3 separate regions of the Homo sapiens genome follow, and regions 1 and 2 are each linked to region 3. Evidence: fine-mapped expression QTL. A gene starts in region 3. Each other region holds a variant in brackets. All regions are shown on one strand. Distances are from middle to middle. Region 1 overlaps ATP8A2 (ATPase phospholipid transporting 8A2). Region 2 holds the start of LOC105370122 (a long non-coding RNA gene). Region 3 holds the start of SHISA2 (shisa family member 2).

The links. PIP is the estimated chance that this variant, and not a neighbour inherited with it, causes the effect.
Region 1: its variant is fine-mapped to the expression of SHISA2 in spinal cord (GTEx, PIP 0.96).
Region 2: its variant is fine-mapped to the expression of SHISA2 in whole blood (TOPMed, PIP 0.96).

The regions. Positions count from the first base shown.
Region 1 is chr13:26,008,336-26,016,514 of GRCh38, forward strand. ATP8A2 (ATPase phospholipid transporting 8A2) reads left to right here. Exons shown (of 37, transcript NM_016529.6): 36 at 4,196-4,287. Among named protein-coding and RNA genes, the nearest start is that of SHISA2, 40 kb to the right of the region's middle. RefSeq lists enhancers at 3,525-4,025, 4,026-4,526. The variant A/C (reference allele first, on the strand shown) is at 4,315.
Region 2 is chr13:25,969,771-25,977,949 of GRCh38, forward strand. All of the region lies in intron 35 of ATP8A2 (ATPase phospholipid transporting 8A2), which reads left to right. LOC105370122 (a long non-coding RNA gene) reads right to left here and starts at 7,734. Exons shown (of 3, transcript XR_941764.3): 1 at 7,666-7,734; 2 at 6,777-6,847; 3 at 5,810-5,979. RefSeq lists enhancers at 4,643-5,182, 5,183-5,721, 7,085-8,028. The variant A/G (reference allele first, on the strand shown) is at 4,543.
Region 3 is chr13:26,048,061-26,056,239 of GRCh38, forward strand. SHISA2 (shisa family member 2) reads right to left here and starts at 3,956. Exons shown (of 2, transcript NM_001007538.2): 1 at 2,582-3,956. The coding sequence starts at 2,915. LINC00415 (long intergenic non-protein coding RNA 415) reads right to left here. Exons shown (of 2, transcript NR_146971.1): 2 at 4,216-4,612.

The DNA of each region.
Region 1 (8,179 bases), 40 kb before region 3:
AACATATAGACATGAAAAGTCCAGTGATTTAAATTAAAACATATTAGAAAATTTTAAAGTAGTTTAGATAAAGCTGAAGGGAGAAGGGGAATGAAAAACATGGGAGAGATTGAGGGATGTGGAAGATAGAATGAGATCAATATGGAGATACTGTAGATAGAAGCTCCAGGAGAAGGTAAAATAGAGAACGGAGGGGAGGCAGGAATCTCAGTGTTTTCTGTAAGTGAAGATCCACAAACATTCAAGCTGTTGTAGCTTTCCAGACCTGAGCAGCTGAACAGGATATAAAAACAAACCTATAACCAGTCATACTAAATATTGTCATGAAACTACAGCCCATCAAAGACAAAGGGAATTATTGTAAAAGCAACCAGAAGGAAAAGACAGATTCCCTGCAAAAAATGGCAAACTGAGTAGCCTTCAGTGCTGAAGACAAGAAGAGATGGAAAAATCAGAGTTGTGTGTTCTGAAGTGTTTGCATTATTGAAGAAGGGGGTTAAATTATTTTCTAACTTTTGACCTTGTCAAATATGAAGGCTAGAAATGTAAGGGTGACCACTGAAATAAATAATAAAGTATTCCTCTAAACCAAAAAATAAAAGCAAAAAACATGATAAACAGGAAGCATAAAATAAATGACACCATTTATGCGTATTTTTAAATATAATTGGATATTAATTACCCATACATATCTATGAAGCAACAGTATGAAATATAGACTGGAAAGCTGTTTCTTTTTTATGGAAGGGAGAAGAATGGCGAGTATAAGGAATTTATATTTAAGACTTTATTATTTTATTAAAATCTGAAGTAATCATAGTTAGGCCTGGTCCTGACATTTGCAGGACTTGGTATAAGAGTACCAGTGGAGACCTTGAACCACACATAAATATGTGAAAGTTACAAATCAAGCTAGCAAAGAATTCTGTCCCTTCATGATGACACCTTCATAAAGCCTGGTGCGCTTCCTGATTCCTGGCTTATTTGAAGGCCTTAGCCAGAGTAAGGCAGCGTGGGAAAGAGCTCACTCCCTGGACACCCTCTCCATGCTTCAGAACCCCAGCTCTGCCCTGCACTGAGGGCATCTGCGCACGTGTGGTGTGGTGAACATCCCAGCCCACACATCCAGGTTCTGTTCACATCCCCATGCAAAAAGCACCCCTTGGCCACCCCCACAGACCTGGGGTGTGCACATTGGCTATATGGTCTACTTTTAGGGGGATGGAGCTCAGGATGGAGTCAAGTTAGCCTTGGATGGAGGCCTGGGTGGTCATTGAGCAGGGACTTCTAGGGTCCCAAATAACTGAGGTGGTGGATGGCAGGCCTGGGCCATGGGAGGGTGTACCTCCTTGGCTGTGGACCCCTCACAGTGTGTGGAGGAAGGGCTGCGGCACAGAGTGGGTCCCTCTGAAGCAAGAAGTCACATTTTTAAATAATATCTCATTATAGGCTGAGCACAGTGGCTCATGCCTGTAATGCCAGCACTTTCGGAGGCTGAAGTGGGCGGATCACCTGAGGTCAGGAGTTCAAGACCAGTCTGGCCAACATGGCAAAACCCCATCGCTACTAAAAATACAAAAATTAGCCAGGCCTGGTGGCAAGTGCCTGTAATCCCAGCTACTCAGGAGGCTGAGGCAGGAGAATCGCTTGAACCTAGTAGGCAGAGGCTGCAGTGAGCCGAGATTGCGCCACTGCACTCCAGCCTGGGCAACAAGCAAGACTCTGTCTCAAAAACAAAAAGAAAAAAATTAATTATAAAAAAAGAAGACAGAGAAAAGCATTCACCACTCTAGGCGGCATCTAGGCGGCGTCTGCCAGCACAGGAGCCCTGCCAGCAAAGCCCCATCTGACCTTTGTCAAGTTATTTGACACAGCTGAGTCTGTTTTCTCACCTGCCTGGTGAGAGGCCAACATGTATAATTTCAATGATCCCTCCCATTTCTGAGGATCTGTGACATTCTCATAAGCCCCATCATGAGGAGGAGCTTCTGGGATGGCCAGGGTGGTTCAGGAGGCATGTCCCTGTGGTCCAGGGGCATGGGGGCAGAGCCTAGTCCTGCATGGTCTCCAGCTTCTGAGAAAATAATGTGTCAGTTGCCCATTATGTCCCCATGTGGGGCCTGGCTGGTGAGGCTACCCTGGGGCCAGGCAGGGTGAGGGGCCCCCTCTGCACACAGTGCCCTTTATTTTGTGCAGGAGTCATGGCCAGTGCTGGGCACGTGTTGGACAGGGAGGACAGGCCCTTCTTTATACCTGCCACATTCTGAAACCAGGCAGCACAGGGAGCTGTGGACAGTCGGTGATGGCAGCTACACAGAGGGACAGGTGCCACGGGCTCACTCCTCCTGTGTTTGCACAACCATGCCTTCCAGGGCAATTGCTCAGCCAGACCCGGTGAGATTAATTTGGCCCATGGAAGAAAGAGGAGACGGGAGGGAGGACCAGTGTGAAAGGATGGAGAAAGTATTTTTCTTCCTCAGCCATGAGACGTTTTGCCAAGCTTAGCTAGCTGAGGCTCACCCTTAATTGGGAATGAATTAAACATTGTTATTTCAACCAAGGCACTCAGAAATGCCCTCTCCTGGAAATTCAAAATGAACTTCAGCTCAAAGAACTGTGAAGAAGAGCCAGGGCCCCACTCCTCTTTCGATGGCCCTGAGGGAGCTAGGTGGGTCTGCAGTCATGGGAGGGGCCTCCTCAGGCTCCAGGCTCACTGATCGATCGGGGGCAGGGTACATGGGATTCAAGCACCTGCAGCTTCTTCTACAACTCCGTATCCCCTCACGTTCCCACAAACGTAAGGGGGGTCTGTATTTGTCTGCCTGGGCTGCCGCAATAAAGTGCCATAGGCTGTGTGGCTTAAACAGCAGAAATTGAGTTTGTCACAGTCTGGAGGCTGGAAGTCCATACTCGAGCTACTTACAGATTGGTTTCTCATGCGAGCACTCTCCTTGGCTTACAGGTGGCTGTGTGCTCTGTGGTCTTCCCTCCGTGTATGCCTGTGTCCTCATCTCCTCTTCTTATTAGGACAGCAGCCATGCTGGATTAGGGCCCACCCTGATGACCTCATTTCACCTTAATTACCACTTTAAAGGCCCTGTTTCCAAATACAGTCCCATTCTGAGGTACTAGGGGTAAAGACTTCAACATGTGAATTTAGAGGGGACACCATTCAGCCCATAATCTATTATGCCTCTAGGTCACTGGCAAACTCCTGTAATGACAAGCGAAATGAGAGCCTGATAGTAAAAATCAAAGCACTTTGACCTGCCTGGGCAGTTTTCAAGCAGTCCCTTTGGGCTTATAGAAATAAACAGACTGGGCATGGTGGCTCACACCTGTAATCCTAGCACTTTGGGAGGCCGAGGCAGGAGGATCACTTGAAGCCAGGAGTTTGAGACCAGCTTGGGCAGCAAAGCAAGGCCCTGTCTCTGCAAAAAATGTTTAAAATTAGCCAGGTGTGGTGATGCACACCTGGGGTCCCAGCTACTCAGGAGGCTGAGGTGGGAGAGTTGCTTGAGCCCAGGAGTTCGAGGCTGCAGTGAGCTATGATTGTGCCACTGCACTCCAGTCTGGACGACAGTGAGACCCCATCTTTTTAAAAAAATAAAATAGTATAGAAATAGCCAAGCTCCAGAACAGTTCCACATGTCTTCACAGCAGTGGCAACCTTGAAGGGAATAGGTTCAGGAAAGGCAGGGACTGCTCCTTAGCCGTCTGTTTTAGAAGAAAACTCGCCTTGATGTTCATTGGGGTTCAAAATAATCAAGTTCTGCAGAACGAAGCTGGGCTGTGGCTGGGGTCCTGAGGCCTCCGCGGGGCTCTCACCCCGTGCAGGCAGGGGGCTGCAGGCAGGAGTGAGGCGCGGAGATGTTTACCCGGAAACAGGCCTCTCCTTGGAGAAGTGTCCTGAAAAGCCCACGGTCCCGCGGGTATGGACCGGGCACATGCACACTTCAGCGAGCAGGAAGCGCTGGCTAAGGGAGGGACTGGAAACGGCGTTTTCCACAACAGGGAGCCAGCATTGAGGCGCCCAGATGGCATCTGCTGGAAATCACGGGCCGCTGGTGAAGCACCACGCCTTACCCGACGTGGGGAGGTGATCCCCCACCTCATCCCACCCCCTTCTGTCTGTCTCCTTGTGCAACCCGAGTGTTCAGGTGACAAGAGACTGACGCGCTTGCTTTATCCGCAGGCTGAACGAGCGCGACCGCCTGATCAAGAGGCTGGGCCGGAAGACGCCCCCGACGCTGTTCCGGGGCAGCTCCCTGCAGCAGGGCGTCCCGCGTGAGTACCGCGGGCGGGGGCTGATGG[A/C]GGAGTGGGTGTCGGTGCGGGGCGGGGGTTGATGAGGAGTTGGGGGAGCGGGCGCTGATGGGGGGCCGGGTGAGTGCTGACGGGGGGTGGGGGCGGGGCGTGCGTTTGGAAGTGGAACTGCAAAATGTGTATTTGGCCCCAGGAACGTGCAGCTTGAGTGTAGGCAATTCCCTGGGACCACAAAATCCGTAAACTTAAAATCCTGGTGTGGTTATGATCCTTCCGTCAGCCTCCCAAGAGGAGTTTTTTAAGGTTGAAGCAGTATGACTTTTAAACTGTTGCCCCTAAAGATAGCAATATGAACTGTTTTGTGTAGTGTTGCCATATTGATTGAAACAATGACCATCATTGGGGAAAAACATCATGCTTCTCCCAGGAAGGCTGCCCCACGTCTAAGCCTGGCGTCCCCCTGCCACCCCCGCCCCCACCTCCAGATTCCAGAGGAGAGTGGGAGGCTGTGAAACATCCCCTCTCCACTGCCCCCGACTTTGGAGCTCAGGGGGAGCTCATGGGCTTGTTTTTAGCAATCCAGTCATCAGATCCCAGCTGAGGCAGATCCAGGCCACCTTCCCCAGGGCCAAGGCCAACCCAGCCCTGCCTCTCTGTGTCCTGCGGCCTTCCCCAGCCCCCTCTCCACCCCCATCACGTGCACACGCCAGCTTTTCCTCCCATACTTACTCCCTGCCTCCCTTTCCCTTCCGGAGGAGTTTAGAGGGAAACGACTGGTAGAAAGAGATGAGTTGGGCCGGACGCGGTGGCTCACGCCTGTAATCCTAGAACTTTCGGAGGCTGAGGTGAGTGGATCACTTGAGGTCAGGGGTTGGAGACCAGCCTGACCGACATGGTGAAACCTCGTCTCTACTAAAAATACAAAATTAGCTGGGCGTGACGGCACATGCCTGTAATCCCAGCTACTTGGGAGGCTGAGGCAGGAGAATCACTTGAACCTAGGAAGCGGAGGTTGCAGCGAGCCGAGGTCATGCCATTGCACTCCAGCCTGGGCAACAAGAGCGAAACTTGGTCTCAAAAAAAAAAAAAAAGAAAGAAAGAAAGAGACAGATTTATGAACGTGAAGAATCATTGTTCACACAGTACAGGCAGTGAAGGATCTGTGTTCTGTTGAGCTCTGCCTGTCAACAGGTATTTGCAGACTTTCTCAATGGAGAGAGAAGGAGGGAGACAGAGTATCATTGCTTTTCAGTAATCTACCCCCTGTCCTCACTTTCCCATGTGGAATATCGTATGGGAAGAAGGGGACTGACATGCTTCTGTCCTTTAATGCTCCACTGCCCTGGGAGGTGGGTAATGCCACCCCAAGGACACAAAGCAGAGGCTCAGGTCAGAAAGTGGGTGGCCCAGCATTGCTCAGTGGCATGCCATGAGGTCTGGATTGCAGCCTCAGACTCTGGCCCAAAAGAGAGGTAAGTCAAGAAGTTTGATGGGACAGGAGTGCTAACTGTAGGGCAGCCCTCTGGAGATGGGCTGCCTGGGTTCCTGTCCCTGCTCCCCTGCTTTTTCGTGACCTTGGGCATGTTACTTAATGTCTGCTTCTGCATCTGTAAAGTTGGGTAATATGAGAACTTACTGGATGCCAGAGGTTCAGTGTAGGTCCTGCCACCCACAGCTGCACAGAAAGCCAATCACTGAAACAACAATTATAGCCAAGGAAGAAGGCTTTATCTGGTGCTATAGCCAAGGAGGTGGCAGATTAGTCTTAAATCCATATCCTTGACTGACTAAAATTAGGGGTTTATATAGCAGGGAAGAAATGTTAACAATGTGTAAGAAAACAGGAATCAGTAGGGGTAAGGAAGCAATCAAGATGAATGAGGGGCTTAGCATCTCGTTGTCTGGATGAGATCATTGGGTGAGTTTCAGATCTTTGCTACTTTTCGAGAGGCCTGTGGGTCCCTACCTAAGGAAGGAACTCAGATAAAACAAATACAAATGTCAAGCTTTAAGACCAGAAGGGTCATTTCTATGTTAAAAAAACAAAAAAACAAAAACAAAACTGTCTATGGGACTATTGGGTTGGTTTCAATTAGGAGGATTAAATGAGATCATAAAGATAAAGTGTCTATATAGGCAATATAGGGTCCAATAAATGTTGGGTATTATTATTCTGCCATTAGCTGAATAATTTTGGGAAACTTAATTTCTCTAAATTTTTATTTTCTCCTGTGGAGAAAAAAGAATTTTAATGATATACATCTTACACAGTCCTGTGAGTCTTCATGACAGCATGTGTAAAGCACCTTCTGTATGCCAGACACAGAGAAAACACATACAGGTTCCCAGAACTCTACAGGGTCTGTTCTGTTGAGCCGTGTTGCCTCTCTGATGAATGTTTCAAAATAACCATAGACAGAATATACACGATATATATGTTGTGATCAAAGACCGAATGAGAATTTTTATGGGAGAGTCATAAATGTCTTAAAGACAACTACTAAATGCTTTTCTTAAGTCAATATTTTGAAGGCCAAAAAAAAATCTACTGAATAAATATAAGAAATAAGAAGGCTTCTGAAATCACACCACATTTTTTAAACATTCAGTGACTAGTACCAGAACCTGATGGATAACTTAGGACGTTTCTGTCACTAACAGCCAGAGAAGATCGTCGGGTGGTCAGAGCTGGTCCTGGGGTGCAGGATGGGCATATAGCAGGTCTCAGCCTTTGATGTTCCGCCTGGGTCTGTCCAGGAAACTAGCAGGAAAAACTCTAATCTTGGTAGTATTTTAGTTCCTGTGAGCCACCAACATACAATATTTGTAATCAGCATTTCCTACACAGTCTGATTTCCTCTTTGTCCCCATGGTCTTCTCATTTCTATGGCTATTAGGAATCTTTCCAGACAGGAAACTGCTATTTTCATTAAGATGCTATCAGAGCACAGATTCAAAGGAATGCTACTTAAGGGGAGTTTTATTCCAAAATAATGAAAAAAAAAGACATAATTTTATGGATTTCACCAAATGTTCTACCCGGAGAAGACAAAACAACTAAGAAATCCGTCTTTCCTCCCACCTCCTTTCACCTACACGATTCTGTTCTCCATTCTGGCTGTGGCTGTTTAAGAAAGCAGATGCTTTAGGAAGCCAGCCAGGGAAAGTTCAGTTAGTTGGGTCCATGAGAGCTCCCTCCAGGCCCCCATCAGGACTTTTCTGGCTGTTAGGACTTCCTGAAACATGAGTGAAAGTAGGGAGTGCAAAGAGCTGGAGGCTTCCTCCGAGCTCCCCGTTTGGATGCAAATGACAGTTAAAGGTTCATTAGGCAGAGCTGGGGAGCAGGTCTGTATCTTCATCCGGTGGGACAGAGGCTGGGCAGGCAGGACTGGTTGAGGGGTGATGGTGTCTGGTTTTCCAGTAAAACTCCTCCCATGACAGCTCTAACTCCCGCCAGGCCTGGTTTCTAAGAGGAAAATGTTTAATCTGAAATTTTATCTGAACATGGGAGGACTCCCTCTCCCAAGATAAACCTATCAGGCCATTCTCCTTTCACTCTTGAATTGTAGAGTCCACTTTCATTCTCGGTTAAGGTTAAGAAAGTCTTAGCGTACAACACGCTGGAAATGTGGTGGTAGGTGCAGCCAATGGGAACTAGGGAGGATGGTGGGAGACATTTAGCACAGACCTCACGTTGCTCTACTTACCCTGGGAGGTTTACAACAGGAGGGGCAACTCTTCTCTGCCTGTCTCTTCAAAGGGAAACCTCGAAACCCTTCCCATCCCAGAGGGGCCAAATCATCCCGCTGCAATCCCATGGGAGGCCCTTGTGGCCATGGCACTAATGCACACAGAAGAAGTGACAGAGTTATGAGCTGAAGAAACCCCCGGAGTTGGGTTTCCAGTAGACACAGGC
Region 2 (8,179 bases), 78 kb before region 3:
GCCACTGTAAAAAATCATCAGTCAACAAGACAAAAAGCACTGTCTTCCATAAGCTTAAGTTTGTGAATACATGGGGATGGGGGCTGATTTTACCGCAGATGTACATATAACCACTACGCGTGGTTGAGGCTTGTTCAGGGCTGTTCTATCCATCAGACAGCTGAGGCATAAGGCTCAGGACCTGTTAGAGTTTCAGGGACCTACCGTGCTCTTTGAGACCTGAAAAAAAACATATTCATAAGCTCCAAAAATTAGGGAGCAGGAAACATTGCATAATGAAATTAATAAATGTTTAAAACCCTATAAAATGCATATCACTCTTAACCGTTAAGTTTAGTAAGGACAATAAGTTTATTATACTTAGAAACAACTTACAGGCTCCCTTATATATCAAGTATACACAATGATTGCTGAGGGGGCATAAGTAATTTCTAAGTAAAATGAGAATTTCAGAGCAAAACTCTCAAACTCCTCTCAAACATTTTACAGGACGACATCACATATAATGTGGTGTGAGAATGTGCTTTAGAGTGTTTGTTCTGATGTGGGGAGGGGTCATCTGGCTTGAGCAATCAAGAAAGGCTTCATGTTGGAGATGGATGAACAACAGGCTTTTGAGGATGGGAGGGTCTTGAATGGACAGAACTGCTGAGAGTCTGATTTGGGCAGAGGGAGTGGCACATGCCAAGGCTCAGGTCCAACACTGTGTGCAGGGACCAACCACCCAGTTTGGAGGGCCACATGCATTTTGCAGAGATACAGAACCTGCGTTTGAATTCTGGCTTTGCTACCTACCGGTGAGGCCTTGTGCAGGATATTTCATATGATCAGATTGTCTCTTCATCTGTCATAGAAGAAGGCTAATATTTTCTTTGGGGGATTAAGGTTCGTGAAATATGTACAACGCAGCATATTGCCTGACCCATCTCAGGTGTGTAAAAGGTCAGCTGCTCATCTTCACTTTGGCAGGAGAGTCATGAGCTGTCGGCCTTGAATTGTATTGAAGGAAGTCGTGGGCTGTCAGCCTTGAAAGAGTGTGTGAGCCCATTTTTGCTTGTTGTTGATAAATGAATGTTATTTTTAAAATTCACTTATCCTGTTCAAAATTCATTTTTAAATGTTCAAATGGATATCAGAAAATAAGAGCTTAAATGCGGTTTCCTACCGTCTACATTTGAAAGTCTTATTTTCTGGTTCCTTGTAAATTTCACTTTGTAGTTCATATGATGGGGTGTGTGTGTGTGTTTCTGTGCACGTGTGCGCGCACACATGCACGGGTGGGCCTGCATACTCCCGTTTGGTTGCACCATTTTCCTTTTCTTCTAGTCCCAGCATCTTGCTTCACTTTGGAATTCCTAGCCAGAACACAGTTTGGGGGCTCTGCCGCTCATCCTCCTCAGTGACCCCCTCCCATTTGTTTTTCTCACTCCTAATTACTCACAGATTTTCTGGGTGGTCCATCTGCAAACTGGATAATGGTGGCGTGCTGCTCTCTGCACAGAGTCTATGCTGTCCTGCTTGGCCTCCTAAGCTGCCTCACAATTGTTCTCTTACAACCTTTGTTTTCTTCTTTCACACCTGCTTAGATTCCTGAGGGGTGGAGGGTAGAGACTAAGAAGTCTGTCTTCAGCTCTGTCCTCCCTTCTAAAGATCTTATAGACCCCCACCTCTTTGAGGGGTCCTGAGTGTTTTTGTCTCTTCTCACCCCTCCCTGTTCCTTCTTTCCTACCCTCATCTGATCTTTCAGCTGATTTGTGTATCTCTCTAGCTGTTAACCGCACAGGAAACTCTGTCAATATTTGCTGGCTGACTGACTGGCAATACCAAAGTCTAGTGAGGTGGTAGTGAGGAAAGGACGGTGACTTCAGTGCCAGATGAGCTGACACACTGGTGCCTGTGTGTCAGCTCGTGTGTCGGATGTGCACAAAGTGGCCACAGAGAGATGCTGACAGTCACCGGGCCTCCAGGGAGGGGGCAGTTTATCTCATTGCTTGAGAGTACAGCTAACATAGACTCACACATGGAGAGGCATCTGTGATGTAAGATTAGCAAATCTTACCCTTGCAAAGATGCACAGGCCAGGAGCCCATCCTCCCTGAAACCCACTCCCTCTCCTGCCTTCCTGTGCCAGCCAAGCCAGGGCACCCCCAGGGGTCCTCAGCATCCCTAACCCCAGGGGCTTACTCAGCTCAGTCCTGACAGCATTGCTTAGGGCCCCTTAAAGGACATTCTGCCAGGTCATAAAACCCAGGTCCAAGTCACTGGCAAATATTCTAGCAGTTTTTCTTAGGAATGTAACCACAGGAAGTAGAACAAAAAAAATCTGTATGCATTAATCTTTTTAGAAAACCCTCTTGTACCAAATTTACAATTACAATTTTGAAATGGTAGCCAGGGATTCTAAGTTTCTCTCTGTGCCTTTTATTCATTCAATAAAATATTTTCATCCAACATTTTATTGAACTTGTCTAAGCCTCATACTTTTATACTATTTTGATAAAGTTAAATTTTCATGAACATGCTTCTGCACTTTCTCATTAGTAGATCTTGTCTTCCAAAATCAACCTGTGGAATTGATACTTTAATAAGCCTGTTCTCATGAAGAAGCAGATAATGAGAAAGGGTGAGATCAGGGAATTAGATATCCAGAAAGCACAGTGAAGAAAGTGCTTTAGGGAGTGAATAAAATGTTTGTCTTGATTTTAGTTTGTTCTTCTTGAAGGAGTGTTTTTCACGATGTGGTGTTTGTGCGCCTTATAGACACTGGACACGTGTGACTGTTGGGGTTGATCAGAATACCTTTTCCCAAACTGTCTTCCCAGTAATCCCTACCTGGGGAAGCAGGAACCCCCCCGCACCGCACATGAAATAGTCTACCCTGCATGTCGTTATTTTGAGTGTCTAAACAATGAGGAGCTAAATGGAAGAAAATTCTTTGTTTTTTAATGTCTTGGTAATATCTTTCCTTTCTTTATTCCTGAAGTGTAAGCCATGCAAATTTCTTTCCTGGTGAAAGAAAATCTATCTGTGGCCACTCACTTTTACAGATACAATATAAACCGATGACGGCGTGTAAGATGACAGACTTTTGTTCCTTAATTTTTTTTGGAATGAGATAAGTGGTTGCCCTGTAATATTTTAGGTACAATGGCAAGCAAGAAAAAAAAGGGGGAATATATTTGTTGAAAACATCTAGTTTTTGAGTTATGCATAGCCTGAATAAACAAGGAGAGCTTGTTCTATTTCTAGATCACCTTTCACTCTGTTCATCCCAGTTGGTGGGAGTGGGGTGGGGTGGGGTGAGCCCAGGGCTGATATTCTCCATTGTCAAGGGTAAACAGACCCGGTTGCTGCCCCTGCCTTTGCCAGGAAGGCAGTGGATTATCTTCCCCTTAAGTGCTTTCCCTGGGTGTAGCTTACGCTGTGACTTTGGTGAAGGTAGCTGTGTGGCTGGTCTTAAACCTTCTGGCGAGCCGTCGCCTCGTCTCCCTTCGGTTTTGTGTTCTGTGAACATCTGTGCGTGGCCCTGTGACCCGGGGTAATCTGGACGGCCCATCACCGCCAGGGAATTCAGGAGGGAAACCTGACTCTTGCTCTGCGGCTTCCATTTCATCCAGGCTGCCTCTAAACAGGCAGGGCCCTGGTCACAGCCTTGGACAGGTGGCCTGGGATCCTAATGGAGCTCTCTCTGCCGAAAAATAGGAACAGAGCCTGAACCACAGCAGCAAGATTTCAGACAAACCAAAGATTGTTCCTCCACTCCAGGCAGTGCTCTCGAGTGCTCCTTTGAAAACCAGTCGTATTAAAAAAATGAAACAACACAAACTCCCGAATGCATTCTGAGTGAGTACTCAACTCAAAAATACCTGTCATGCTTTGATCTTTAACGGAAATCCTTTGATCTTTAAAACAGTGTTGAAAAAACTGTTTAGTATCATCACACCTCTAAGTCAAAATCAGTCCCACTGCCAGGCTGAGCATGTCGCTGAGCCAGCCTGAGGCAGGAGGGATGCAGGCCTTTTGCACCGGACTCCAACAATGACTGCGTCACTTCAGGAAATCGGTTTTTTCACAGTACTGGCCGTTGGCAGTGCACATGTGGTGCATCTCCCTTTTGCTTTTGTCCCACCTCTCCCACACTTTCCTCCTAAAATACCTATTATTGGCTTTTTTTCCAGCCAAAAGGATAGGAAATTAGGGCATCCTTTCAGCAAACCTCTCCAGGCCAGGTGGCAAATGTCTGCTTCCAGCACCTGGTTGAGATTTATTTTCCTTCCAGCTGCATTTTTTTTCCTCAGCTCTGTCATGAAGCAGAGAAGCGAGTGCAGACGGCGGAGACAGATGACCTGAGCTGGGCTCTAGCTTAGCTGTGTGGCCTTGGCTGGGTTATTAACTTCTCTGAACTTCAGTTTTCTCATCATACATTCGCTTTGAGGTTTAAATAAATAATGCAGATTAAATCTATAGCCTATGTAGATGTTCAGGAAGCGTCCCCTAACTGAAAAGCTGCATAACAAGTACATTTCACTGGCCGTGTTTACC[A/G]TCTAACATGTAAGCCTGGGGAAGATGTGAATGCAGCAGGCTCTCCGAGTTGCATCGTCGGGGTGTGCCCCCTAGTCTGAGGTAAAAGGGAGAAATCTAACAGAATCCCAGGGACATGGGAGTGGTGTGGACGAATGGCCGTAGTGAATGTTGGATGGGGGTGTGGTGGGGACTGTAGTGAGTTCTGAATCTTGGTGGTCTCCTCAAGACAGCCTTTGGATTACAGCTTCAAGGAGCTCCTCTTTGTGAAGAGGACAGTGTACCCAGTCCAGGCTGTCCCTTCTGCCCCAGGATCTCTCGCCAGCTTACCCCTGTCCATCTGAGCTGCAGTCTGTCTGTAACGTCTATGCCGGTCCTTGCCACTCCTCCCCAGAACCAGCCCTTCCTTCGGAGTCTCCTGCTCCATCGGGATGAATTTTTCCCACACTGCAGACTCGCTCTCAGTGTCCACACTGTCCCCTCATGTCCTGCGCATCCCTGGGTGCCAGGTCTCGGCGTCTTCCCAGCATCTGCACAGTCATCCCCCCTGGTCCCTTGGGGTGGTGCCTGTCCCTCTTCACCCACCATCCCACAGCTGAAGACATCCTTTGTGAAGCACAGCCTCATCATGCCACCTTCTGCCCTCAGCCCACCACCTGCTGAGCCAGTGCAGACCAGAACCACAGTGATTTCCGCCTCTGCTTCTCTTCTCACGTGTGCGACCCTCAGCTTCCACCTCCCCTGTCCTCCCCACGCTGTGCCCTTCTGTGGTTGGTGCTACCCTTGGCTCTTCTTGATTGACTGGTTTTATACGATGGTGTTGCACTGTGTCCCAAGCACTGGGCCACACGTGGGCTACTCAGGGGCAGCAGGACAGGCCTTGTCCTGGGAACAAATGCCGTCCACCTCAGGACACACTCTCTGATGTCACCAACTTCCCTGCTGTGCTGATGGCAGCCTGAGCTTCCCTTAAAACACTCATTTTAAAAGTTTTATTTTCGACCGGTTGCGGTGGCTCACGCCTGTAATCCCAGCACTTTGGGAGGCCAAGGCGGGCAGGTCACGAGGTCAGGAGATGGAGACCATCCATCCTGGCTAACACAGTGAAATCCCGTCTCTACTAAAAATACAAAAAAAAAAATTAGCCGGGTGTGGTGGCGGGCACCTGTAGTCCCAGCTACTCAGGAGGCTGAGGCAGGAGAATGGCGTGAACCCGAGAGGCGGAGCTTGCGGTGAGCCGAGATCGCGCCACTGCACTCCAGCCTGGGGGACAGAGTGAGACTCCATCTCGAAAAAAAAAAAAGAAGTTTTATTTTCATTATTCAAATATTCAAGCATACATAGTAGTAGGGAGATGAGCACAATAAGCTCTTATGAAATCATTGCCCAGGTCCAATCATTATCAAGATTCGGCCAGAACTGCTTCATCTCACCCCTTCTGCTCAGAGTCTTTCTTTCCTGAAACATAAAGCAAATCCCAGGCATCACGACAGTCCACCTATGCTTTAGGAGGCATCTCTAAATATTCCACGAGACTTTATAACATCTGTGATACACAGCATGCTTGTTTATGTTATTAAATGTAGAACTCCAGTCCCCATGATCACATCTAACAAGTTAATAATAATTCCTTGGTATCAGTCAAACAACCCGTCCATAAAAAGACTCTCTGGATGCCTCAGCCCTGCCTTTTAGGATTGATTGATTTGTGTTAGGATCTGGGCAAGGTTCACACATAGCATTTGGTTTCTGTGTTCCTCAAGTTCCTCTGAATCTGGAGAACTTTCTCTTGTTTTTTTGTTTTGTTTTGTTTTGTTTTTAAGATACAGAGTCCCATTATGTTGCCCAAGCTGGGCTTGACTTCTGGGCTCACTCCATCTTCCTGCCTCAGCCTCCCAAGTAGCTGGGATTACAGGGATGTGCCGCCATGCTGAGACCTGTCTTCCTGGTTTTTAATGCCATGGACTTATTCATTATGCTCCACTTTATTTTTTTATCATAACACTGATCCCCACATGCAGCAAATGAAAGTTTCCTCATGTGCAGAAAAGGCGATGAGGCCTCAGAGAGATGGAGTCACGTCTGCTCAGTGTCACCCAACTAAAGAGAGGCAAACCTGCATCTTCTTACTTCAGGCCTCTTTCCACCAAGCCAAGATGTGGAGAGCCACCCAAATGCTTGCATTTGCAATTACATCTTTATTAGAGAGACTGGAAAGCCACGGAGCCCCCAGAGAGACCAGGAGGGGTGCTTACCTTCTAGCATGGTCTGATGAAAAGGGTCACAGTCTGCTGTCTGGTGAAGCTGCGTGCAAAATCCAAGGAAGCTAGAGAATTGTAGTTGCATGTTGTTGTCTTTTAGATCCCTACATGTAGGAAGAACTTGGACCAAGCAGAGAAATCATACCCTCCCCCCAAGAAATGCTGAAGCCAAACCAGCGGACAAATTCAGAGCAAATAAAGGGAAAAGAGTGTGTGAAAGCGGCTCATTTTGTTTGTTTGTTTGTTTGTTTTTTGAGACAGAATCTTGCTCTATCGCCCAGGCTGGAGTGCAGTGGTGCGACCTCAGCTCGCTGCAACCTCTGCCTCCCAGGTTCAAGCAATTCTCTGCCTCAGCCTCCTGAGTAGCTGGGATTACAGGCACCCGCCACCATGCCCAGCTAATTTTTGTATTTTTAGTAGAGACGGGGTTTCACCATCTTGGCCAGGCTGGTCTTGAACTCCTGACCTTGTGATCCACCCCCACCCCCACCCCCCTTCCCTGCCCTCGGCCTCCTAAAGTGCTAGGATTACAGGCATGAACCACCGTGCCCAGCCGCAGCTCACATTTTGATATGGCTCAGGAAAGAGAAGCCTTGCTAAAGAAGCCAATTTCCACCCACAGTCACCTTCGTGGAGCCTAGTATGGTCTATGAAAAAATTAATTGAATGCGTTTAATCTTGTAGAGCAAAGAACCTTGGGCAAAGCCTAATGCCGGCAAACATTTTAGTTGAGACAATGGGGAGAGTTCTTAGGAGAACAGCTGGAGAGCCAACGACGCTCCCAGGCAAGGCCAGTTAAAGCTCTCGCCTTGCTGACAAATACTCGCGACAGGTGAGGAAATGCATTAGTGGAACAAAGGGAGTGAATGTGGCAGGAAATTACCGAAAGGCTGCCCGCATGACCCAGCCGGGCTTCTGGTGACTGTTTGCATCCTGGGCACAGGAAGGAGAGGAGGAGGAAAATAAACTCTTCAGGAAGTGAAACACCTCATTAGCATTTAGTTAATGCCTAAGCTGCCTGTGTCAACTAAAAATAATTGATTCTCTGTTATTTTAGGAATGTTGAATTCCAAGAGCCTGTTGTTGTTGTTGTTGTTGTTATTGTTCTTATGGACCGATGTTTAATAATTAGAAAATTTTTAAATTAAATACCAGATGTCATTTATTATTAAGCATCTTGTTCACCTTTAAAACGGTGCTGTGGCTGTATCAGAAATCTAATCAGGAGCTTAGCTACTTGCCCAGTGCTGCGATGAAGAAGTGCAGCATCTTTAGAAAATGCCTGGAGAGAAAATGGGAAGAAGTGTCCTCTTGATGGAGGGAGGTAAGTGTGGAGAGACCATCAGTGTTAGCGGTTTGCTAGTAACACGGCCTCAGGCTGTATTTCCAGGATGACT
Region 3 (8,179 bases):
GGGAGGCCAAGGTGGGTGGATCACCTGAGCTCAGGACTTCAAGACCAGCCTGGCCAACATGGTGAGACCCTGTCTCTACTAAAACCACAAAATTTAGCTGAGTGTGGTGACGCGCACCTATAATCCCAGCTACTCTGGAGGCTGAGGCAGGAGAATCGCTTGAACCCAGGAGGCAGAAGTTGCAGTAAGCCGAGATTGTGCCACTGTACTCCAGCCTGGGCAACAGATTGAGATTCCATCTCAAATAAATAAATAAATACATAAAATTAGTTTCTTAAAAAAATCTTTTAGGAGCCATAGAGAGGGCACTACAAGGCTTTAGAAAATAGACGCAGGTTGACAGGGACAGAATCAGATGGGAGGTGCCTGCAGAATGCCTCTGAGCCACTTTTGTGGAATTCTACCCTATGTTACCAAGAGCCTGCATTTTCTGATGTGTTCTTGCCCCAACCTCCTGGCTATATTTTTGGGAAATACATAAGCACAGGGGTGGATTGGGTCTTACTGGTCTTGGCAAAGCATAATGCCAGCCCAGAGTCGGATGGGGCAGCATTTTAGGAAGGAGACCACGCCTTTGAGGTCAGCTCTATGAATACCCTTTCATCATCCATTAGAGCAGCCGGGCTTTCTAATTATGCTCCTTTTCACTGTTCTGGTATTGCTGGAGTCAGTGTTTTTAAAGTATAATACCAGGTGGAATTATGGAGAAATAATGCCCTGTAAGTAAAACAATACTTTATAGGTATTTAACCAAAGGCTGACTGTGGAATATTTCCTGGAGTTTCAATGCTGAACAGAGCAATTTCTATATATAGCGCCCCTTTAGCAGGTAGAAACATTTGCTACAGTGTCTGCAGCACAGCTGGCGCCCAGCAGTAGAACTGTCCTAATTACACTATCACTTCAGGCTAACTACGGATCACTGGAGAAGTGGATGCAGGCTTTTTCCTTGGCGTGTTATAAATATTTCATTCTCTAAATTAAGACACCAGCCCTAAATATGTTATCAAAAAATAAATTAATAGTAGTAAAGCAGGAAAAAAAATGTACCCCAATCATAGCAGAAACTAGCTGAAACCAGCCTCAGTCCACATAATGAGTTTTGGGGAGAAATAAGTGTTCTCTTTCCAGGATTTTTAATTGGAAATGTAAATAACTACACAGGGATAAGGAATGTAACGCTACTATAAGCCCCCCGGCAGGCTTAATTAGGCATGTTGCCCTTCACTGCAGAAGAAAAGTGAAAGAAATACAATTTTTAGGAAAAAAACGTTTAAAAGTAGCATGAAGAAGGCATCCATGCACAACACAGGGCGTCATGAGAAGTCTCGTCCTGAGAAGTCCCGACTAATCCAAAGCCATCCCAACTTTTTGGAGACCATTAATGAGCCCAATCTAGCAGACATCTCACTGTAGCAGTTCGGGGTCTGGCTCCCTTCTCTGGGCTTTCTTCCATGGCCACACAGTCTGCGAGACTGAGCTTGCGTTTTAAGACTGCGCTGGTTCTGGAATTACGCTCTCTTCAGATTCAAGACAGCAGAACAATAGGAGTAGCATGCTAATAAAATGCTTGACTGCGAAAGGGAACGGCACTGAAAAGAGCTGTCTCTCACGAGGTCCTGGGAGGCAGCTCTATAAACACAAACTACGCTGTGCCAAAGCTCAAGCAGCCCGAACCCAGGCTCAGGATGCTAGCGAAAAGCCTCCCAGGTAAACACAACGGGCCCACAAAGAGGAGGAGCCGCCCCCTCGGGGACACGTTTGCCATTTTACCTCTACACCTCCCCTCCCCCGAAATAAATAACACACACACACACACACACACACACACACACACACACGGAGTGACTGGTGTAGACACCCCAGGGAGGCATTCCGGAAGGTTTCTGAAGAGTGAAGTGCAACCTACCAAATTCTTTCACGGGTTTACTTTCCAACTCTGGCTTTGGCAATTTGAAAGAAAAAAAAAATCAAAGCCACAAAGAGCAAGGCTGGGCACTGCTCCGATGTTACACCTACTAAGTCTGACGTGGTAAGGAAAACAGTCCAGAAGCCCCACAGGCGGGCCGCTGCAGGGGAGAGGGGCCGCCGCGTGGAGAAGATGGGAATCCGCGGCGTCTGGCACGGGGCAGCAGCCCCGGGAAAGCCCTGAGGAGCTGCCTTCCTTTCGGGGAGCCTTCAGGGGAGCACCGCTGCCAGGCCCTCACGGGTGGGGGCGCACCCTCGCCGTCTCCTTGGGTACCCCTAAGACATGAAGCCCTATGGAGACAGGAGACGCCAGAGGGGCCCGGAGGACCCTGGTCAGAAGGAATATGGGGGCTGTCTGTGGCCCACACTGCCTTAGGAGTGTGATTTTGTTCGGAAAATTAACTCTAAGCCACCCTTTGGCTGACAGATGGAGAAACTGAGGCCCGTGAGGGTGAATTAGGGACCCACACCGACCAAATAATAAGCCAGAAGGCAGACTCCGCCTCCTGGTCCTAGGCCCTTTCCTGAATTTCCCCCCTTCAAACTCCCAGGTCCCTGACGTCCAGGCAACGCCAACCGTCCTCCCTTTCGCGCTGGGCGCAGGCCGCCCTACCTGCCGAGCCGTCGGGGCCGTCTTTGTCCGCCCGGCCAGGCTCGCCAGCGCCCTGCTGGCGGTCATTGTCGCAGCCGCCCTGGTCCAGGCGCGCCTCGGCGCTGGAGCAGCAGTAGCGCAACGCGCAGCTGCCGCAGCAGATGGTGGCGTCGCCGCCGTCGAAGCGCTCGGGACACTGGAAGCCGATGCGCCAGACGCCCTGCGCGTCCAGCCAGCCGTGGCAGTACTCGCCGCTGGCCCTCGCCCCCGCCGCCAGCAGCGCAGCCAGCAGCAGCTGCAGGAGCGAAGCGGCGTTCCAGGATGAGGAGACGGACGAGCGGCGAGCGCCCCACATGGCACCACCCTGGGCGCGGACAGCGCGTCTCCAGAGAGCGCAGGACGGTCTCCGAGAAGTCGTGGCCCCGGCGACCCCCGGGCCTCGTCACTGACTGTCCCGCGGCGCTTTCCGCGCGGGCCACTCCCCTCTGCCGCGACGCCCAGGAGGCGACGACGCCGGGCCCTAGGTCCAGGAGCTCCTAAGCCATCCCCGTCCTCAGCCGGTGGCCCGGTCCCCTTAGGGACTGCCTTATGAGTTGCACTCGCTGATGGAAATCTCGGGATGCAGTCAGAAGGCCCCCGGGGCTGTCGTCCGGAAGCCTCTGGAGGTTTCACTGGCAACCGGACCCTCCCTGAGCATCCCCGAAGGGATGCTCACTCGAGCCGAATGACCGCTGGGCGCGCCGCCGCGGACCTGGAGCCAGGGCTCTGCGCAGGGTTTAAGCCTCAGGGTCCCGCGCGCGAATCAGGGCCCGTCTCCCCTCCTTTATTCCCTCCTCGGGCGGGTAGAAGGGGCGAAGGCGGGCAGTGCACGCAAGGCTCTGGGCAGCAAGTGACGCAGCCGGCCGCGCTCAGCCTCCTCTGCCCCGAACTTGGTCCGCATGGCTCCGGCCGGGCCGCCCGGGCAGCCCACGGGGGTGCAGCCCCGACGCTCCACTCGGCGGGGCCGACGGCCAATCTTCCCAGCACGTCGCCGAGGGAGCGCTCCTGACCCCGGGAACGTCCAGGACGCAGGCGAGGGTCCTGCGCGCCCCCAGCCGCAGTCCCGGGAGCCTGCCCAGCTGGCGGCGGCCGCGGCTGCTGCTGGGCGCGGATCCAGGCGGGCGGCTCGCCCCGGTTCCCCTTCTCCGCCTCCCCGGCTGCAGCGCGGTCCCACAGGAGCCCGGCAGCCTCCGGCCGGCTCTCCCTCTCCCGGTCGCTGCCTCGCCCTCGGGAGGTGTGCGCACCGATGGAAGCCTCCCACGGAAGTTTCTTTCCTCCGGGCTACGGGAGAAGCCGAGCGCAGCAGCCGCCCACAGCCTCGCCTCGCCCCGCCCGGCGCCAGACCAGCTCCGACTCCGCTCGCTGCCGCGCTGAGCCGCGCTCTTATAGAGGCCGGCGGCTCCCCGGCGCGCATGCGCGCTGCGCGGCTCCCCCCCACCCCCGACCTCAGGGACGCCCGCGGGCGCCGGGCAGCCCCTCACTTTCCTACCCCGGGCAAGGAGAAAGGTGTGGCCAAGGGCGGGGTCTGCCTGCTGGAATAGGCGCGGGAGGAAACCCAACCTAAGCAATCCAGGCCTCGCTAACACAAATAACAATAATAACGGAAGAAACTCAACTTGCTTTGTGAAGATCTTTGGCATTCAACATTCGGTTCGATTCTGCAAACTTCTCAAGGGATTATGATTACTTTCCACTCTGCAGATCATAAAATCGCCACTCAGATGAACTCTCTCGGCTTCCAGCAGCTGATGTCCTGGCCACGGTTGGTCCCAGGCCCTGTGCAGGAAGAGCACCGATGTTTGTGGCAGGGTTCACACGCCTAGGGCTGTGTTTGGTGGACTGGAGGCCTCCACCACAAGGTGGAACGGAGAGAGTTCAGCAAAGATGTCACACATTCGGCCACGGTGTGGATGATCTGTGTCCCTTTTTCTTTCTATATTTGGGTGTGGTGATTTATCGGATTCCAGCAGGAAAGTGCCTCCGTCCAACATGTGGCCTTAGTGGTTTAGACAGCTGCAGTCAGGAAGAAAACAAGGTTCAGACAGACCAGAAATTCAGCTTTGATGAAGGAGAAATTAATAGCTTCTCTCTTGCAGAAGCTGGAACAACAGGTGCTGATGTTATTAAAGCAGCAGTGCTTATTTTTAAAGGAACGAATGCCCCTTCCCACACCGTCTGGGAGTCAGCAGACCTGAATTCTAGACCCAGCCCTACTAGCAGGGAATCACTGCGTTTTTCTGGTCTCAGTTTCTTCATCTATAAAGTGGAGCATAGGATGTGACGATCACTAAGGTCCCTTTCAAGTCCATGACTTCAGAACACAGGCAGTTTTATTCACAGCAAAGACACTCAGGTTCAAGCAGCCATTGGATGCTTGTGTATGCCTGGTTAATGTGAAGATTCAGACATTGTTGATTATTCTTCCACTTGCCCCAACAATGTCAAATCCAAGAAAAAAAACCCTACCCTATGTCCCTGCTCCCCAACACACACCTTATTCTTTTCACTAAACCTCTCTCCAAGCATTGCACTTTGTTTTCTTGCAGTTTTTTGGTTGTGTATCGTTTTAAGCTACACAAAATTATATACTTTAAATGCACTATTCACCAAATGTCTTAAGCTAGTAAGCTAAAAAAAATTTCAATGTCAAGAAATCATTCATTCAAGAAATACACGCCATGCACTTACAGTGTACTGTGCTCTGTGCTGGGTACTGGGACTCATCAAGAAGCCAGACAGCATGGCCATTTCCTTCAAATAGGGCCTAAAGTCTCCAGGGTAAAATACAGAAATCAGACAAAAAGACAAAGAACTGAATAAGCAAAGAGAATGCAAGTATGATCAAAGCTCTTACCCACAATGAGAACAGCATCAATTTAAGCACATAATCTAGGTTAGGGTGGGGAAGGAGGTCAGAAAAATCATCAAAGGAGTAACACTTAAAAAGAGACCAGAAGAAGCCAAGGGAAGATTGAGTTTTTCAGAATGAGTCATTTTCTTAGAAGACACCATTAGCCAACATTTATTGAGAGCTTACTATGGGCTAGGCACCACGCTAAGAATTTCATGTGCATGGTTTCATTTAATCCTCACATCAGCCCTATAAATAAGACAGTATTACTATCCTCATTTTACTGGTGAGGATACTTGCTCAATCCCTAAAGATAGAGAGCGTCGGTTTGCCTGGACTGCACCCAATTCTTCCTGACTCCAAACCCCACTCACCGCACTGCTGATCACCACAGCCGCCACTACAGAAAGCCCAGGATTGATTAACTGGGAGTCCTGTACAGATCATGAGATGCTCCTATGGCAGCACGAGTTGATTTGGGTAGTGTTCAGAGGGTGAATACTTTCAATTTTGCCATTTGGAAAAACAATTAATGCGAGAGAATTGTACTTATTGTTCTATTTAGAATTGTATTATTTCAGACAGTACCTATGCCTATAACCTCCTTCCAGGATCCACTTATCCTACTCACCAAAACATCCACAATTTGTCAGAGTTTATTTATGAAGAAAAAAAATTGTTTAACATTTCATATTGGAATTGATTTGGTGACTGGATAGTGCCACCTTTAAAACACAATGTTTTTGCCAAATAGTCTACAATTTAATCTATAATTGGTGAACTTAGAAGTATGGCGCTCTGAGCAAATTCGTCTTTTTTTTTTTTTTTAATTACTGTGTTTCTTTTCTTCCTTAAAAGTTAAGGAGAGGCCCTTTCATAGTTACTTTACGTAGTGGTTGACTGTCTTCAATGCTGAAAGGTCCTTTATGTCACTTTGTCTCTCTTGTATTATCGTTTCTTTGTGTATCTGGAATGTTGAACTGAAATTTTATAAAATAACTTGCCAAGTATTTAGTGAGGTTCTGCATGGGAGGTGCCACTGGGAGATATTAAAATAGGCTTGTTCCTTCCATAGGAAATAAAAAGAAATTCCCTCATTGGTCTTAACAGACAACCAAAACTATTTCACTCGTTTCTTCTGAGAAGCTATAACTAGTAATTACAACATATAGGTAGTAGTAATCATAATTTATGATAATCAAAATGAAATGTTAGGCAGTCTGCCAAAATATATTGAAAAACATATGAAAGAGTGCAGCCCTCTTTTTAAAAAAGTTGAATTCTATAGTCACTAACTGAAAAAGTATATTTTCAAGTTATTTTGCCTTTCAGTATGTGCCTGTGCATATATATATAAATATATATATGAATAAAATCCAATTGATTTAAAAGCAAACTTCTGACATATCTTCACTAGTACAAATAGCAAGTCATATAACTAAAGAAATGATTACTTACAACTTTACTAACTGGAGTTGATACAAATCAGATGGAGGTAATAATATTTCATTTGGCTGGCAGTTCTAAAAGCTGCAAGATCTACAGTGTTTTTCTGCAAGTTTCAGCAAGAGCAGAAGGTTCTTACCATCTGCACATCCATCAGCAGTCTGTTTAGGGAGAATGGCTTTCACTGGGTTCATTCATTTTTTTTTCTCCTCTTCTCTCATAAATAGAAATAGTACTGAAAATTGGCATTTGGTTTACCAAAAGTTCTTTTAAGTTAGAGTGTTTTTGTGAAAACCCAAACAAATATATTAATTTACATTTATTTTAATTTTGTCTTCTGTTTACCTAAACTTATGTTCAAAAATGTTCATAAATTTATGAAAAAAAATTGTTCTTGCTTTAAAAGTTTTAATTTTTCACCCTCCTTATTTTTATTGTAATTGACATACTGACTTCCAGAAAAGTAATTTCCATATTTTCAATTATATTTCTTCTCATTTGTCATTATAAACTATTGACATAGTTCTCTCTCATCCCCCCTCCTTACTCCATTGTTTTACTGAACCCCCTTTAATTTTGATTTTGATGTTTACTATGGATATATTTCCATTTTGGAGATATGGAGTTTCACGGAGGGCTTATTTCACTAATGCCTTCCTATCTAAAAGAATGGCATAAACAAAAGCAAAATGTGCGAAGACTTGCAAATCATATATACGAAAAGAGTCTAATATCCAGAATATAAGAGAACTCTTACAACCCAGAACAAAAAGACAACCCAACCAAAAAACTGGCTTGAATAAACATTTCTCCAAATAAGATCTACAAAAGGCCAACAAGCACATGAAAACACCTTCAACATCATTAGACGTTAGAGAAATGCAAATCAAAAGCACAAGATACCACTTGACTTTCACTAGGTTGACAATAATAGTAATGATAATGATAATGGGAAATAATGTTGGTAAGGTTGTGGGGAAATCAGATCCCTTGAATGCTGTCATTGATGGGAATGTAGAATGGTTCAGCCACTGTGCAAAACAGCTTGACAGTTCCTCAAAAAGTCAGACATAGAATAACCATATGACCCTGCAGGTCCACTCCTAGGTAACCCCAAAGAGATGAAAACATATGTAGATACAAAAACTTCTATATAAATGTTCATAGCAGCACACTTACAATAGCCAAAGAGTGGAAACAACTAAAATATCTGCTAACTAATGAATGGATATGCAACATGTGTTATATTCATACAATTGGAATATTATTTGGACATAAAATAA